Regions from separate parts of the Homo sapiens genome. Here region 1 is linked to region 2. The links come from fine-mapping of genetic effects on gene expression. A gene starts in region 2. The other region holds a variant in brackets. All regions are shown on one strand. Distances are between the middles of the regions.

Region 1 (8,335 bases), 130 kb before region 2:
CACCTCAGCCTCAGCCTCCCGAGTAGCTGGGACCATAGGCACCCGCCACCACGCCCGGCTAATTTTGTGTGTGTGTGTTTTTAGTAGAGACGGGGTTTCATCGTGTTAGCCAGGATGGTCTTGATCTCCTGACCTCATGATCCACCCACCTCGGCCTCCCAAAGTGCTGGGATTATAGGCCTGAGCCACCGCGCCCGGCCAAAAACCGCAATTACTTTTGCACCAACTAACCTAAATATTCAATGTAGTTTATTCCTTGCTGAATTTTTTTGTGGGAACAGGTATGGCAAATAGAACAACACTGCCATTAATTGAAATTCAGATTTAATAATGTAACAGGATGTCTAAGCAAATTACTTAAAACTGCACCTGTGCATTTCTGGGGGTTATTTTGAATTGCATAATTTAATGCAAGACTTTTTCTTAATCTTCAAGTGGGGTGAAATACTTAGACATTATTAATAGTGTTAGTGATCTACTCTTATTAGAATATCAATAAGTAGGACAAAGTTTGAAAGAACAGCATAAAAATGAAGGACTCACTAAGAAATCTCCATTTCCTAGTTTAATTATGGAGAATAAAGTATTGCACTTTATTATTCAACACAAAATGATGTAGCCAACAGTAACATACAGGTACACAATTTAATATTTATTATATGCATTTTATATACATTATTTTTCAACAGCTGTATGTTTGCTATGTGGTACAATCTTAAAAATTTGCTGATTCATAGTTTGTAAAACAAAAACCTTACAAAACTCATCAAAACTCGCAAACTGATCAGAAAAGTTTCTCGGAAGACTAGAAAAAATACTTTATTGTCTTAATCATGCATTACACAAACAAAATCTTTAGTTACACCATAAAATTAAGCACATCTAAAAAAATAAAACAGGGATAACTAGTCAAAACACAGCAGATTTCTGTATCCTGATTCAACTATTTTTGTATCCTATTTGTAATGCAAATAAAACTTTACTCCAAATATTTTTAAACAAGTTAGTTTTGTTTGGAATCATGGTAAACCAAGATATATATCTTAGGGGGAACCACCTTGGTTTGTAATTTAAACTATAAAATACTCCATTTTTAGTCTATTTTAGACTATTCAAAGAGTTCCAAAATAGATATACAGGTTCCTTTAGCACATTAATAAAAGGATATAAAGACCAACAAAAAGTGAAATAAATAATAGGCCATTAGCAAGATGGATAATCCTTGATAAATAAACTTGTAAATACAGTAAGATGTACAAAATATCACATAGTGATAGGATGCCAAGATTAGTTTTTTTCTTTAAGAGTTCATTTGGAGTACTAAACCCCACTGTTTCATTTTAATACACTTAATAGTCCTTGGTTTATGAAGACATTTATGTGATGATGAAAGTTATTTAGCATCTTTATGGAAGGACTTAGCTGAGCTGTATTAGGCAAAAGAAGGAAAGAAAGTGGTTACAGGGCAACGGGTCAGTGAGATCTCTGTGTTTTAGGGTTGTATAATGCAGAAAAACTTCAATACAATCTTGAGCACTGTTGTGACAGGCTAAATATATAAAAAGACTTATAAAAACTAGAATTTTATCCAAACATTTTGTGCAACTAATGCTAAAATATTTTAAGTTAAATTTTCTTTTTCTTTTTTTTTTTTTTTAAAGCAAAATAAGTTTAAAAGGGAATCTGTGGCATTCAACCGATAAACAGAAGATCACTAAGAGATGAAAAAAAGCTACTCTTGGAGCTCACTTCCCCCAACAAGAGCACCACATTCCTAACCCCTAAGGCAGCACACAGAGTCCAAAAAAAAAAAAAAAAAAAAAAAAAAGAAGAAGAAGAAGAGAAAAAAAAAAACTTTTTTGAAAGATCAGACTCCACATTGGCTTAAAGACACCTAAAAACAGATATACGCTCAGTTCACATCCAGTACAGGCCACAAATACTGGAGTCCTTTTTTCTTTGTCCCACAAAATACAGTAATTACAGTTAACTTAATGAGCTTGACATTAAGATGTGATTTCCACCAATTTGTGCCTGCCCCAGATAGCCTTCACCAGGCAGATCACATGTAGTGTCATATCAGTAACCTTTCTGATGGCAGTGATGCAGACCCTCTTTCTGTCCAAGCAAATCTTGTTACGATGCAAGTTTTTGTTGATTCATACAAATACTTTGGCAAGAGCATCAGCTCCTGCACTAGCTATATATGCTTTTGACGAGTGGAAAGCAACATCATAAATTGATTCATCCAATTTCTTTCTGTGAGCTGTTATTTCTTGCACACATGTCTTGCTGTCTAAATTCCATAATCTGATGGAACAGTCATGGCCTGTAAAAGAACAAATAAAATTTGTTACTGAGTAACAATCTTTTATAAAGTTTGTGGGCAGTACAGGACTTTAAGACTTACTTCCAGACATCAAATAGATTCCATTAGGATCTACTGCTAGACTTGTAACAGCATCCAAGTGAGCTACCATAGAATGGATCATTTTACCTAAACAAAACATAACAGAGAACTGATTAAGTTTTCACAAATACTAACTCGAGACAACAGAAACTACAATATAGCATCAACATAAAACAATCATTATAGCAACTTTTTTATTGTGGTAAAATATACACAACATAAAATTTACCACTGTAAACATCTGAGTACACAATCCTGTGTCTTTTAGAACATTCACAATGTTACACAACCATCACCATTCTCTAGAGTTCCGAACATTTTCATCACTGGAAAAGGAAACCCCATACCCAATTAAGCAGTCACTCCTATTTGCCCCTCCAACCCCTGACCACTAATCGACTCTTTCTATAGACTGGCCTATTCTGGATACTTCGTATAAGTGAACTCATACAATACGTGGCTTTTTGTGTCTGGCTTCTTTCACTTAATATAATGTTTTAAGGGTACATCCACCACTACGGTAATGTTTTCAAGAGAATTTTAATTCAAATGCATAACTTTCTCTAATAATTACTCCTAAAAAAGACATCTGTGTAACATGTATCTGACAATATCTGATAGACACTGTAAAGCAATGACAATAGGATTGCATCAAAGGCTCAAGATCGTGTAAACTGGAATTAAATAAGCCAAGTGTGGTGAGGTGTGCCTGTAGTTCCAAGCTACTCAGGAGGCTGAGGTTGTGGAATCACTTGAACCCAGGAGTTCAAGGCTGCAGTGCACTATGACTGTGCCTGTGAGTGGCCACTGTACTCTAGCTAGCCTGGGCAACATAGTGAAATGCTGTCAAGAAAGGAAAGGCAAGGAAAATGGGAAGGAAAGAGAAAAGAGAAGAAAGAAAAGAAAGGGAAGGGGAGGGGAGGGGAGGGGAGGGAAGAAGGAAGGAAAAGTGTCAGTGAAAGACCTTAAGACTATTTTATATACTGGGCTAACAATAAATAAATCACCAGAAAATA[T/C]GTTTCTACCTAAACATTCCATTATCAAGTTCAGTTCACTTATCCTTTGAAATATAATCATTTTACATACTCTAAAAAAGAAAGGAGTAAACAAATTACTCTAGATTTCCCCAGATATTAACAAAAACACTGCTCTGGAAAATGTGACTTAATGAGTATCTTCAGTGAAGATTTGGCAAGCAAATGGAATTCAACAGCAAGTAGAATTTAAAAGACAAGTTGTGAACACAAAGTTGTATTGCACAAATACTTTGGGGCAAGGGCATCCTGCAATGGTAATATATGCTTTGGATGGATAGAAAGCATTATAAACTGATTCACTAGGCAGGCAATAAAATATAAATACTGATACTTTTATAAGTTACTCTCCTTTCACTCAGCAATGAGTCTTTATTACTCAAATGCCTGGGATGTCCCTAATGAAAGATAGAGGCTTTTTCCAAAATTCTAGTTATAATCATTAGCCATGCCTCTGGTCCCATGATGATACTCTACACTAGGATATGAAAGAGGTCTAGTTTTGTTATTTGTGATGGGGCTATAGCTGTTGACCTGAATACAAAACCACAACATAATAAAATGTGTAAAAATACACTCCAAAAAACCTATAAAAAGTAATATAGTAGGCCAGCTGTGGGGGATCATGCCTGTAATCCCAGCACTTTGGGAGGCTGAAGCGGGCAGATCACCTGAGGGCAGGAGTTCAAGACCAGCCTGGCCAACATGGGGAAACCTTGCCTCTACTAAAAATACAAAAATTAGCTGGGTGTGGTGGTTAGCACCTGTAATCCCAGCTACTAGGGAGGCTGAGACAGGAGAATCGCTTGAACCCGGGAGGTGGAGGCTGCAGTGAGCTGAGATCGTGCCACTGCACTTCAGCCTGGGTGACAGAGTGAGACTCCGTCTCAAAAAAGAAGAAAAGTCCTATCACTTTCCAGCACTATTAAACACTTATCAGTTGAAGACAAAATTTAAAAAAATTAAAGTCAAAAATTTAAGACAAAATTAAAGTCTCTCATTTCAAACCACAACTCTCATTAATACTAAGAGTAATAAACAAAATAGTCTTAGAAATTCTACTCTGCTAGCCCAAAGAACAGAAAAGTCTTCAACAAACTATCTTCAATTGTTTAGTTCAACATAATTTATCTTCCAGTTCTAGAATCCACTCCTCTCAAAATTCCTATAAAAGACCACAGTGTATAAAATGGTTGGCCTCCATGACAATACTTTCAAAATATTAGGGGTTAAATACCAGGTATCATTAGCTTTCCTTATGTTAAATCTGTGATGGTAAGTTTTATTTTTAAAATTTATTTTATTTGTATTTTTGAGACAGGGCCTTGCTCTGTCACTCAGGCCAGAGTACAGTGGCACCATCATGGCTCACTGCAACCTTATTCCTGGGCTCAAGCAACCCTCTCACTTAACTGGTACTAGAGGCACACGACACCATGCCTGGCTAATTTTTAAATTTTTTGTAGAGACAGAATCCCGTATTGTTGCCTAGGCTGGTCTCAAACTCCTGGTGTCAAGCGATTCTCCTGCCTCAGTCTCTCAAAGTGCTGGGTTTACAGGCATGACCCATCACACCTAGCCTTGATGGTAAGTTTCAATTCACAGATCTAGTTCAAACTTCTCTCTTGAGAATGATCCTCTATCTCCTAAGTTTAACATCTCTAAACCAAAAGACTTTTTTCCAATACAAGAGCTACACATTTCTTTAAGGATGCTATAATTTTCCAAGTTTAACTCCAGCTCTCCAGCCTGTGCACTAAACTAACCCTCACCCTGATTATCTTAAGTCAATTGAGAGTTAACCCTTCTTCTCCACAGAGTCACAAAAATCACTTCAAAATGTGAGTAATCCCTTCAGATGGACCATGAATAGAGAACACAATGCTGGACCAAGTTGTATGTTGGGCTTTCACTGGTGACCACATAAATCACAAAGCTTCTGACCCCTTCCAGTAACGAGGACCTCTCCTTCACTAACATATACCTGCAGCTTCTCACATCTAACCAATTTCATTTTGGCCTCGTGCTTCTGCTAATACTCTACCAAAACTAATCCTAATTTTTTCCTCTTATGACTAAGGAAATAAAGGCTGGACAGATGCCACTGCACATGCCCATTCTCCCCTCCCTGGCACCTTAAGCCCTTTTACTGGCTAACACTGTGGGCCTCTATTAAATGGAGAGAAAATAAAGATGTCAAATGTAAACTACGGAAACAAACTGTGTGAGTTTAAATACTGCACAAGTCACTTAACTTCTTTAAGCCCTTCAACCTCATGTGTAAAATGGGGATAATAATAGTACTATATCTACCTTACAGAGTTATTAGAAAAGCAAATGAGTTAGAACAATGTCTCACACAGAATAGACAATATACCACTAGTCTGTAGCTCCAAGAGGACAGGACATTTTATTCTGTTCACCAAGCTTCAAGAACTGTGCCAAGAATATGGCAGATAGTCTAGACATTTTGCTGAATGAATGAGTCCACAGCTGATACAAGATCTTCCTCCCACTCCTCCACATCCCTCATTCATACTATAAGGTTCTTCCAGAATCACTCACTACCTAAGTCTTTCAGACACAGTATAGGAAACTCAAATTTGTAACTCTACCAAAATTTTAGAAACCATGGGTCCTGAAGATCTCTCTGAAATAAATAGTAGAAATTGAAAACTTTAAATCCTTTAAAGTCAAGAATCTATCATATAGTGCAAAATGTGACTTGATTAGTTTTTCTAAACCAATTTTGCAAGCCCTGTTGTTCAAATATTTTTAGTGGTTCCTACACATACAGCATAGATAAAAATTCAATATTCTTAACCTGGTTCTAAAAGTCCTCCTCAATAGATTCTATTTTCCTTCCCCAAACTTTGTCTTTGGCTTTGTCTATAAGAAACTTCTGTTCCTGAGAAAGTTTCCACCACTGCACCTCTGCTCAAAATATCCCCATACCTGTAACTTCCTACTACCACTTCCTTCACTTAAAAACCAACCAACCCCAAACACCTTTCCATTCCTAAGGCAAAGCTTCATCTTGCACATACCCCCCCCACCCCCTCTTATTTCCTCTAGACAACAAGCCCACAGAAATCAGGAACCATATCTTATACATGATAGTATCCAGTGCAGTATAGTACAAAATGCTGAATACATTTTTATTAAAATGGTTTACTCATTTAAATAATTATTGAACCTATTCATAGCATAAAGTTCTATCATGTTTCAGATATAAAAGCTCAATAAATTTAATACTCATTTTATAAAGTAATACTCTATTAAAAACAACTTAGCTAACCGGAAACAGCAGTTACGGGGACAATCTATTTTACCACAATTAAATGAGTTTTTAAAGAACTTCTCTGAAAACACCATATCCAGGCCGGGCGCAGTGGCTCACACCTATAATCCCAGCACTTTGGGAGGCCAAGGTGGGCGGATCACCTGAGGTCAGGAGTTCAAGACCAGCCTGGCCAACATGCTGAAAGCCTGTCTCTACTAAAAATATAAAAAATTAGACAGGCGTGGTAGCAGACGCCTATAATCCCAGCTACTCAGGAGGGTGAGCCGGGAGAATCACTTGAACCCAGGAGGCAGAGGTTGCAGTGAGCCGTGATCGTGCCACTGCACTCCAACCTGGGCAATAAGAATGAAACTCCATCTCAAAAAAAAAAAAAAAACCACACCAAAAAAACATACATCTGAAGACAACTCATAGTTTCATGTAACTCAACGGGGGGTGTGGGGCGGGGGGGGGCGGTGTGTGTGTGTGTTCAGGCACAGTGGCTTACGCCTGTAATCCCAGAACTTTGGGAGACTGAGGCGGGTAGATCACTTGAGCCCAGGAGTTCAAGACCAGCCTGGCCAACTTGGTGAAAATACAAAAATTAGCTGGACATGGTGGCACACACCTGTAGTCCCACCCTGTAGTCCCACCCAGCTATGTGGGAGGCTGAGGCACCAGAATCAATTGAACCCAAGAGGCGGAGGTTACAGTGAGCTGAGATGGTGCCACTGCACTATAGCTCTGGGCAACAGAGCAAGACTGGCTCAAAAAAAAAAAAAAAGGATTTTTTTTTCTATTATTTGGAGCCTACTGCTTCAATTATCTTCATACTACAGGTAAGGTACTAGTTAACAGAAATAATAAATAGGTGAAATTTGGAAACAATTTGAAAGACTATATGCTGCTTATTTGATATTGAGTAAGCTTTTACTGACCACTTTCTTGATTTCTGCTAATAAAATAGCTTTTCAGATGCTCACCTTTTGCTTTTAATATAACTACTAAAATTCCTGAACTTTCCCATATAACTGTAAATCTTCAATAATTAATAAACAGGAATCTTTTTAGAAACACAAAGGAAATTAACCTCTTTGCTCTTGCAGCAGAGAAAAACATTATCGGTTTCATAAAAATAGTTCAAAGGATTGATTTGATGAAGTGTTAAATTGGGAACACTGGCCAGGAGCAGTGGCTCATGCCTGTAATCCCAGCATTTTGGGAGGCTGACATGGGAGGACTACTTGAGCCCAGGAGTTTAAGACCAGCCTGGGCAACACAGTGAGACCCTGTCTCTATAAAAAAAAAAAAAAATTTAAATATTTTTTTTAAAAAGAACATCCACTTGAATCTTATGTCCTGTGCACAATGTAGACCTGTAAATATTCACTTTGTCTGCAATTTGTTAAAAAGAATCTGTCCATGAAAGTAATGTTTGAACAAAAGGGTCTCATTGTTAAGACTACAGACTAAAACATATTGCCATTTTCTATATAATCTTCAAAGAGAAACCTATAATTCTGGGTCACTGTCTTACTTGATAATTTGTTACCCTGTAACAATGTTGCAATTAACATTTACATTTCTTATTTAGAAGTCCTTCAGTAC
Region 2 (8,335 bases):
CTTGATTTCTTCATTTTTAAGGGGGGAATCTCCTGAATTTTCCATTTTCAGGGTTTTCAAAAGCTGGTCTGGAATAGTAATTTGCAAATCCTAGTGTCTTTTCCATGACAAGATTTTAATGAATCTACTATGAAATTACAAAAAAGAAAAGTGTAGTGTAGTAATTTTTCTCTTTAACAGGCACTACTGTGAAGAAAGAATCACTTGTAGAACTCTAAAAAATATGCAGGCCTCTTATCCTCTGGAGATCTGGATTGATCTAGGGCTTGAAGAAAATGGACTGTCTGTGGAATTTTGGTAATTCATGTTATATAAAAGTTAAGAAACCACTGTCCTATGACCTTACTAACAATGCTTTACCTGAGTCTAAGGTAAGGAAGAATCAGAGACAGAAGAGCTTTAAGATGTGATCCTTTAGTTTGGTTCCAAGTTTCTAAGACAGACCTTTACTCTAAATTCTTTTTACAGAGAACAGAATCATACTGTAAAGTTCCTTTTAATATCTTTCCCAAAGCCAGGGAAAATATTATTCCCCATTAAAATTTTACATCAATATGGGGTATTCCTTAAGCTCTTCACGTTCTCTATTGAAACTATTCAATAATTAACACTTTAAAAATCTGTGTACATGACAGTGCACTGGAGACTGTACATAATAATATGTAAGTTGTCTTATTTCTAGATTGTCTTTCTTAAAAATAGGTTTAAGTTTACAGTAAAAATCCACTGATGCTTCACTACACCCTCCCACAAATATGTATTCAACACATACATTTTAAAATACGCATCTCACAAGCAATCTCAGTAGACTGAAGGCACCTAAAGCAAACTAGAAACCTTATTAAGTTAACCCAATAAAACATTTTAAATATATAACTCAAAAAAAAAAAAACCAACGCCATCATGAACATTTTATTCCAAAAGAATCAGTATGAAATAAAAAAGAGTCTAGAAACACTGTAGGACTTCTTCAAAACAAGGAAACAAACAAAAACTTAGGATGGCTAATAACAGTACTGTACCAATAGAATTGAAAGCAAGCAAGCAAGCAAAAGGAATCTACCTTAAAACACTGCTGCTGCTGTTAAGGAGACCTAGAAGGGAAAGCAAATGCTAGAGCAGGCAATAAAGGCTTCTTTAATATATAGTATAGGTTTTACTAATTTGGGCACAAGATATCTTTCTTCTCAGCTGCTTACATTAGTGAAGTTTATGGGTGAAAAATGCAATTGCTAACTTGAAGAGTGTTGAAATCCAAACTTGCATACAACAGTACAAAGGTCTAAGAAACCATAGCAGGGACTGGTGAAGTATTATTTAGTGAGCTTAGGCCTTACTGCATTTGTCAATCCAAATTTTAAAAACAAATGCCTTACTTACTTTACTCACACAGAAAATTAAGTTTGCAGTATGTAGTAGAAAGCTGTATACCAACAGAATTCTATAAATTTTAAGTATGTTAAAGCAGACTGTACACAACTTAAACCAGTTTTGACTTCAGCTTTTTTAAAGTTATGTAATTTTAAAGCCCAATATTATATCAAAACACAATTGTAAAGCACTGAAATGACTAACAAGTGTTACTTTTTTTTAAGACTTCATACAGTGTCAAAATACCCAAGTATTTTTTACTTTTGAAAAGTTTAACTTCACCCACTTTGTGGAGTCATATAAAAGTTTACTAGTTCAGAACCAAACTAAAGAGATGCATATTTGAGGACACCCTTTCTAGTTAATCCAATCCTCCTCCTTTCAGCACTACATTTGCCTAACGATTCACCATAGGCATATGACATATATGACAGCAAATACTGCTTACCCCCTAAATACACAACAGTCTGAAGAACAGGTGCAATACTATTTAGACACACGCTTTTTCCTTCTAAGCCTAAATTTGCCCTGGAAAGGTATTTAAAAATAAACACAAATACCCAAGAAAGTTAAATAACCCTTTCAAAAAGATGCAGCAATTTTGAGATCCAGGACATGAGCTGTTAACTACCAACAGCTTCCAAATGTGCAGCCTATCAAAGGTTCACATTATGAGGATCGAGTCAAGCTCAACTATGAAGGGTTCCGAGAACATCTCACTTTGCTTCTCCTGCAAGAGTAAGTAACATGATATAACTACGTTTCACTTCAAGGGAATATTAAATCTCTTCAGTCGTTTCATAAATACAGCATCGATCGTCTGGTTTGGTTTTTTTATAGATAAAGAAACGGATGGGGGAAAGGAGATCTAGTGGAGAGTACTGTAAAAAGAAAAATTCAGTGCTGAAAGCGTTGATGAGTCACTAAGTAAGGAATAACTACAGAGAATCCAAGTGAGTAAGGCAGCATCTCAGGTGAGAAAGTACTTAAAGTTGACGATGGGAAATAAAACTTCACAGGTCAGTCCCAAGTCACTGTGCACCCTAGCAGCCCAGGAAAGAAGCGTGGCTGTCAAGGGGCAAGCGCGTACCAAGTCTGAGGGAGGGGGCCAGATACGCCAAATCGGAAAGGGGGGTGGTCCGGAAAAGGGGGGTAAGATGCCTATCCTAGTCCCTCTCTTCGGGCTCTTCATCTCAAGAGGAACAAACAAGAGCAAACTCAGTGTTGAGAGGCCCCAAACCGGACTCTCCCACAGAGAGGTGCTCGGTCCCAAGCCCCGGAGGCCCGGGAAGGCCGCCTCCGGAGGAGCCCCCGCAGACGCCATACTAAAAGCCAAAATGGCTGCCCCGAGGAGGCCCGCACCGCGTAGCCAGTGAAGGTTGGGGAGCAAGCTTATGCGGGAAAGAGGGAGGGGGACTCCAGGAAAAGCCGTTGAGAGGACCATCACAACCTGAGCAGCACAGGTAGGTTCCGCTCGGCCTCCCAAGGCGCCGGCTCCGGCTGAGTGGAGTCCCCAGCCCCACCCCCCGGCCGGGAACCCAGCCGCCGCAGCTCCCGCACACCGACCCCAACGAGGTACCTGCAGTTCGGCCCGTTCCACCTCCCAGTGCGCCCGCTCCATCTCGAACCGAGCCCACTCGTGCTGGATGTAGTGCAGTATCCCCGGGATAGTGTACTGCTGCGGCCGGGACAGCTCGGGGCCTGCCGCGGGACCCGCTCCCTCGGAGGCCGGAGGACCCCCGCCGCCCGCCGCTCCGTTCCCCCCGGGCGAAAGGCCCAGGTTCCCCCCAGGTCCCTGCTGCTGCCGGGGAGGGGCCGCCATCCCCGGGCCGCCACCACCGCCTCCGGCAAGCTCGTCCATTGTGTGTGGGGCCCCGGCCGGGGCGCAGGGCGAGACGCCGACAGCTGGGGGAAGGGCCGGAGAGGGTGGCCCCGCGCTGGCTGCGGGGCGGAGGCCGGCCGGGAGAGGGGCGGGGAAGGGGTCGTTGCTGTGTGCCTGCCGTGGGTCAGAGCAGGGAGCTGCCGGCTGCCGCCATTACAATCCCTCCTCCATCTGCCCGTCTCACTCACTCACTTTAGGGGAAGGGGGGGCCTCGGCGGGAGGGGTGGGGGGAGAGTTGGGAAGGGGATAGGCGGAGGGCCGTCACTAGCGCACAGCATGCTGGGTAGCGAACGCAGCCTCACGCTTAATCGCCAAATAGAGTCCGGCCTCACCCTACGCCGGCGCACTGAGAACGCAGCCCGGGTCGCCGTTAGAGGGCGGGGAAAGAGCTCGGGCTCCGCCCCTAGGCCCGCCCTCAGACCCGATCCGGTGTCTGGCCGCAGCTACCGGACACCTGGGCTCCGACTCTGACTTTTGGAAGCGAGGCGGCCTTAGGCTTCCTGGTTATCAGTTTCCTTTTAGCAGGCCGTCCCCGGGCGCTGTTTCCTTCCCAGGGGTCTCTCACCCGTGTCCCGGCTTTCTGAGCTGGTTGTTAACCTGGCTGGTCGCTCTGGCCGACCGCATCCCGTCTCGGATTCCTGACGTTTCTTTTTCATTCTTTGAGTGTTTCAGGCAGTCCCAAGGGTGGGCCCTCTTTCCCTTCCTGTCACTCGCTCTGCCTCTGGTTTCTTAGAACCAGTCAGTTCTCTGCTGGCAAATAGCCAAGATCCTCCGGCTGTGGTTACTGATTCCTCGTCTCTGTCTTGAGCCTGGGCTTTGGTCCCATTTCTATGCGCTCGGTCGCCCGTCGTAACTTATTCCACTTTGCGTCCCCTCTTCTTTCCTTTTCTGGAATGGGTTGTGGGGGGGTTGGGAGAGGGGGAGGAGCGATTTTTTTTTTCTTGGGAGAAGAAGAGGTAGTGAATTCCTTTAGATCTTGACGATGATGGGTAGAGGGAGAGAAGTTTGAAGGAGACTGGCTAGACTAACAATTTGATACGGTAGAAATGAATGGGCTCACAAATATTGTCATCAATAGACTATTTTGATCGAAACAGAAAATAAAAGCACTGTGAGTACAACTTAAAATCCTAGATGAATGTTCTCCTGGGTCATTAAATGTTTAAGTGAATATGGCCGGGCGCGGCTGCTCAAGCCTGTAATCCCAGCACTTTGGGAAGCCGAGGTGGGCGATCACTTGAGGCCAGGAGTTCGAGACCAGCTTGGCCAACATTGTGAAACCCCATTTCTACTAAAAATACAAAAATTAGCCGGGCATGGTGGCGCACACCTGTAGTCCCAGCTCCTGGGGAGGCTGAGGCACGAGAATTGCTTGAGCCCAGGAGGCTGAGGTTGCAGAGAGCCGAGATCGCACCACTGCACTCCAGCCTGGGCGACAAAGCGAGACTCCGTGTCGGCAAAAAATTTAAAAAGTTTGAGGAATGTAACATATACATAAGAGACAAGGCTAATATTTTAAGTACAATAGTGGGTACTTTTATGTGCTTAGTTTCCTAGAAAATATCCTAATGCACTAGTGTGTTTCTAAAAATTAATATAGCTAAGAAGCATTTGTTTGAAAAATAAGACAAAAATAATTAACAACATAAGGAAATTAGGTTCAGTAATTATATTAATAGCGATGCAGGAAAATTGCATTGAAAATTTGTTACTTTTTAAAATTTTTTTTCTTTACTGCAAAAGCCAATAAAACTTGTACTATGGAGTATGCACTACCAACCAATCAGGAAGTAATTTCAAAAGAGATTAAGTAATGCATCTTATTTTATCACATCTGCTTTACTGTTATTACAGTTTAATGGAAAGCAGATTGGACCTGTTACTCATGCTGCCATGTTTTATTTCTATATGAAATGAGATCTTAGATTGCAGTACTATAATGTTAAGGACCATTTCTTCAAATTATTATTTTATTTATTTTTTTTTTTTGAGACAGGGTCTCACTCTGTTGCCTGGGCTGGAATGCAGTGGTGTGAGCTCTGCTTGTTGCAACCTGGAGCTCCCTGGCTGAGGTGGTCCTCCCACTTTAGCCTCCTGATAGCTGGGACTCCAGGTGTGCATCCACCAAGCCCAGCTAATTTTTGTATTTTTTGTAGAGACGGGGTTTTGTCATGATGCCCAGGCTAGTCTCCAACTCCTGGCTCAAGTGGTCCACCCACCTTGGCTTCACAAAGTGTTAAGATTACATATTTCTTCAAATTATTAAAGTACTATTTATCTTAGAGTTACCAACATACAACCTGTTTATTCATCCAATTCCTTTTTAGGGGGCGTCATAGCACATAAAAAGCTCAGAAAAATTATGCTGCCTCAAAGACATACACACACATACACACACACACACACACACACAGAGACATTTGTGGCCAGGTGCGGTGGCTCACACCTATAATCCCAGCACTTTGGGAGGCCGAAGCGGGCAGATCACTTGAGCTCAGGAGTTGGAGACCAGCCTGGCCAACATGGCAAAACCCCGTCTCTACCAAAAAGTACAAAAATTAGCTGGGCGTGGTGGCGCTTGCCTGTAATCCCAGCTTCTCTGGAGGCAGAGGGGGCAGTGAGCCGACATCATGCCACTACACTGTAGCCTGGGTGAAAGAGAGAGTGAGATTCCATCCCAAAAACAACAACAACAACAAAAACCATTTGTGAGAATGGTTGACCTGATGATAGCATCAAAAGAAGACTAACATGCACACTTATAACTGGTAACTTGAGCTTAAGGAAAGACTGGATTTCTTATCCTTTTTGTCTCCTCACCTACCCTCAAAACAAAAACAAAATCTCTACTTCTATTATCTACCTTATTAAGTGACACTACATCCAAACTTGAAGCCTAGCAGTCATTCTACTACCTTTCAGTCAGCCCCCACAAACCAATTTCATTCTCAGTAATATCTTTCCTGTGGATTCTATTGTCTCTCTTTATACTTTAGTTTAAACCTTCCCACCTCCATTCTACCCCCACTTTGCACTATCACTGCTGCCTGATTGATCTTCCTAAAACAAAGGTATGATTCTGTCATTCCTCTGTTTAACATAGTTTAGTGATTTCTAAATTTAGTATAAAGCCCAAATTTTAACATAAGCATATAAATTGATCTAGATCCATCCTACAGTCTAATCTACCATAACACTATCATGCCACCTCATTCTTCTCTTCAGCCAAACTGCCACTGTTTTTGGTTCCTCAAATGTATAATGCTATTTCATTCCACAGTAATTTAACACATGCTGTGCCCCATTGCCTATCTTCAAAACTCAGCTCAGATCAGGCACAGTGGCTCATGCCTGTAATCCCAACACTTTCGGAGACAGAGGTGAGAGGATGGCTTAAGCCTAGGAATTCGAGACCAACCTGGGCAACATGGCAAAACCCTGTCCCTACCAAAAATACAAAAATTAGCCAGAGTGGCCACGTGAGTCTGTAGTCCCAGCTACTCTGGAGGCTGAGATGGGAGGATCACCTGAGCCCAGGAGGTCCAGGCTGCAGTGAGCCATAATTGCATCATTATGCCACTGCACTCCAGTCTGGGCAACAGAGCAAAACCCTGTCTTAAGACAAACAAAACCCTTCCCCCACAAAAAAAAAAAAGAAAATACTCAGCTCAAGCATTATTTTGTCCAAGAAGCCTCCATATCCCTGAATTCTTTTGACTCACTATTCTATTGTAGTAGCCTCCCTCCCATGCTTATCTCTTTTTTTCTTTAATCTTTTTTTTTTTCTTTTTTGAGACTGGATCTCACTCTGTCACCCAGGCTGGAGTGCAGTGGCACAATCTTGGCTCACTCCAGCTTCAGCCTCCCCAGCTCAAGCGATCCTCCCACCTCAGCCTCCTAAGTAGCTGGGATGGGACCACAGGCATGTGCCACCATGCCCAGCAAATATTTTTGTATTTTTTGTAGAGATGGGTTTTCGCCATGTTGCACAGGCTGGTCTTGAACTCCTAGCAAAGTGCTGGGGTTACAGGTGTGAGCCACTGCACAGGGCCTTATCTAATAGTTTTTACACTATATTTACACCATCTGTGTACTGATCAGTAACACTGATACTAAACACTCCAAAAGCAATACTTACACATAGTGAGTACTCAATTTTTGCTTTATTCCTTTCTATTTTTTGTACAGAGGGAATCTCACTATGTTGCCCAGGCTGATCTTAAACTCCTGGGCTCAATCTATCCTCCCAGCTCAACCTCCTGAGTAGCTAAGACTACCTGTACACAACATCACTCCAGGCTATTTTTTGTTTTTAATTTTTTGTAGAGATGGGAGTCTCACTGTATTGCCAGGGTTGATCTCTAACTCCTGGCCTCAAGCAGTCCTCCTTCCTTGGCGTCCCAAAGTGGTAAGATTACAGGCATAAGCCACTGAGCCCAGCCCGTTTTTTTTATTTTTTAAGAAGTACTGATTGGCTACGATTTTTCAGGTGCTCTACTGCTCCCTGCTGATCCACTGTGACCCAGACACGTAATCTCTGCCTTCACAGAGTTTCTAGTCTAATTTTAGGCAAATACTTAGCACCAACCACTCTGGCTTCCTCAATATTTTGTCCTGATCCGTCTTGAAACTACCTTTCTTGAAACTTCAAGTGTGCTGCCTATTTAAAGAATTCCAACGGAATGTGACTACGTTCATTTTAATCATGGTTTTATAAATATCAGTAATGCAATTGATATGGTTTGGCTCTGTGTTCCGACCCAAATCTCATCTCCAATTGTAATCCCCACGTGTCAAGGGAGGGAGGTTATTGGATCATGGGGACGGTTTCCCCCATGCTGTTCTCGTGATAGTGAGTTCTCAGGAGATCTGATGGTTTTATAAAGGGCTCTTCTCCCTTCAATTTCTCCTGTCTCTCCTGCCCTTCATGTAAGATGTACTTGCTTCCCCTTCTGCCATGATTGTAATTTTCCTGAGGCCTCCCCAGCCATGCAGAACTGTGAGTCCATTAAACCTCTTTCCTTTATAAATTACCCAGTCTCAGGAAAGTTCTTTGTAGCAGTATGAAAACGGACTAATACA

The links. PIP is the estimated chance that this variant, and not a neighbour inherited with it, causes the effect.
Region 1: its variant is the best candidate, but not a certain one, in a credible set for the expression of STRN3 in lung (TOPMed, PIP 0.85).

Annotation. Positions count from the first base shown.
Region 1 is chr14:30,893,252-30,901,586 of GRCh38, forward strand. STRN3 (striatin 3) reads right to left here. Exons shown (of 18, transcript NM_001083893.2): 17 at 2,411-2,497; 18 at 553-2,329. The coding sequence ends at 2,160. It also overlaps a transcript of COCH not described here. Among named protein-coding and RNA genes, the nearest start is that of COCH-AS1, 7.6 kb to the left of the region's middle. The variant T/C (reference allele first, on the strand shown) is at 3,427.
Region 2 is chr14:31,022,954-31,031,288 of GRCh38, forward strand. STRN3 (striatin 3) reads right to left here and starts at 3,426. Exons shown (of 18, transcript NM_001083893.2): 1 at 2,951-3,426. The coding sequence starts at 3,232. It overlaps AP4S1 (adaptor related protein complex 4 subunit sigma 1), which reads left to right and starts at 2,696. Exons shown (of 6, transcript NM_001128126.3): 1 at 2,696-2,834. RefSeq lists enhancers at 2,375-2,474, 2,545-2,654, 3,765-3,924 and silencers at 2,644-2,825, 2,965-3,224, 3,315-3,634.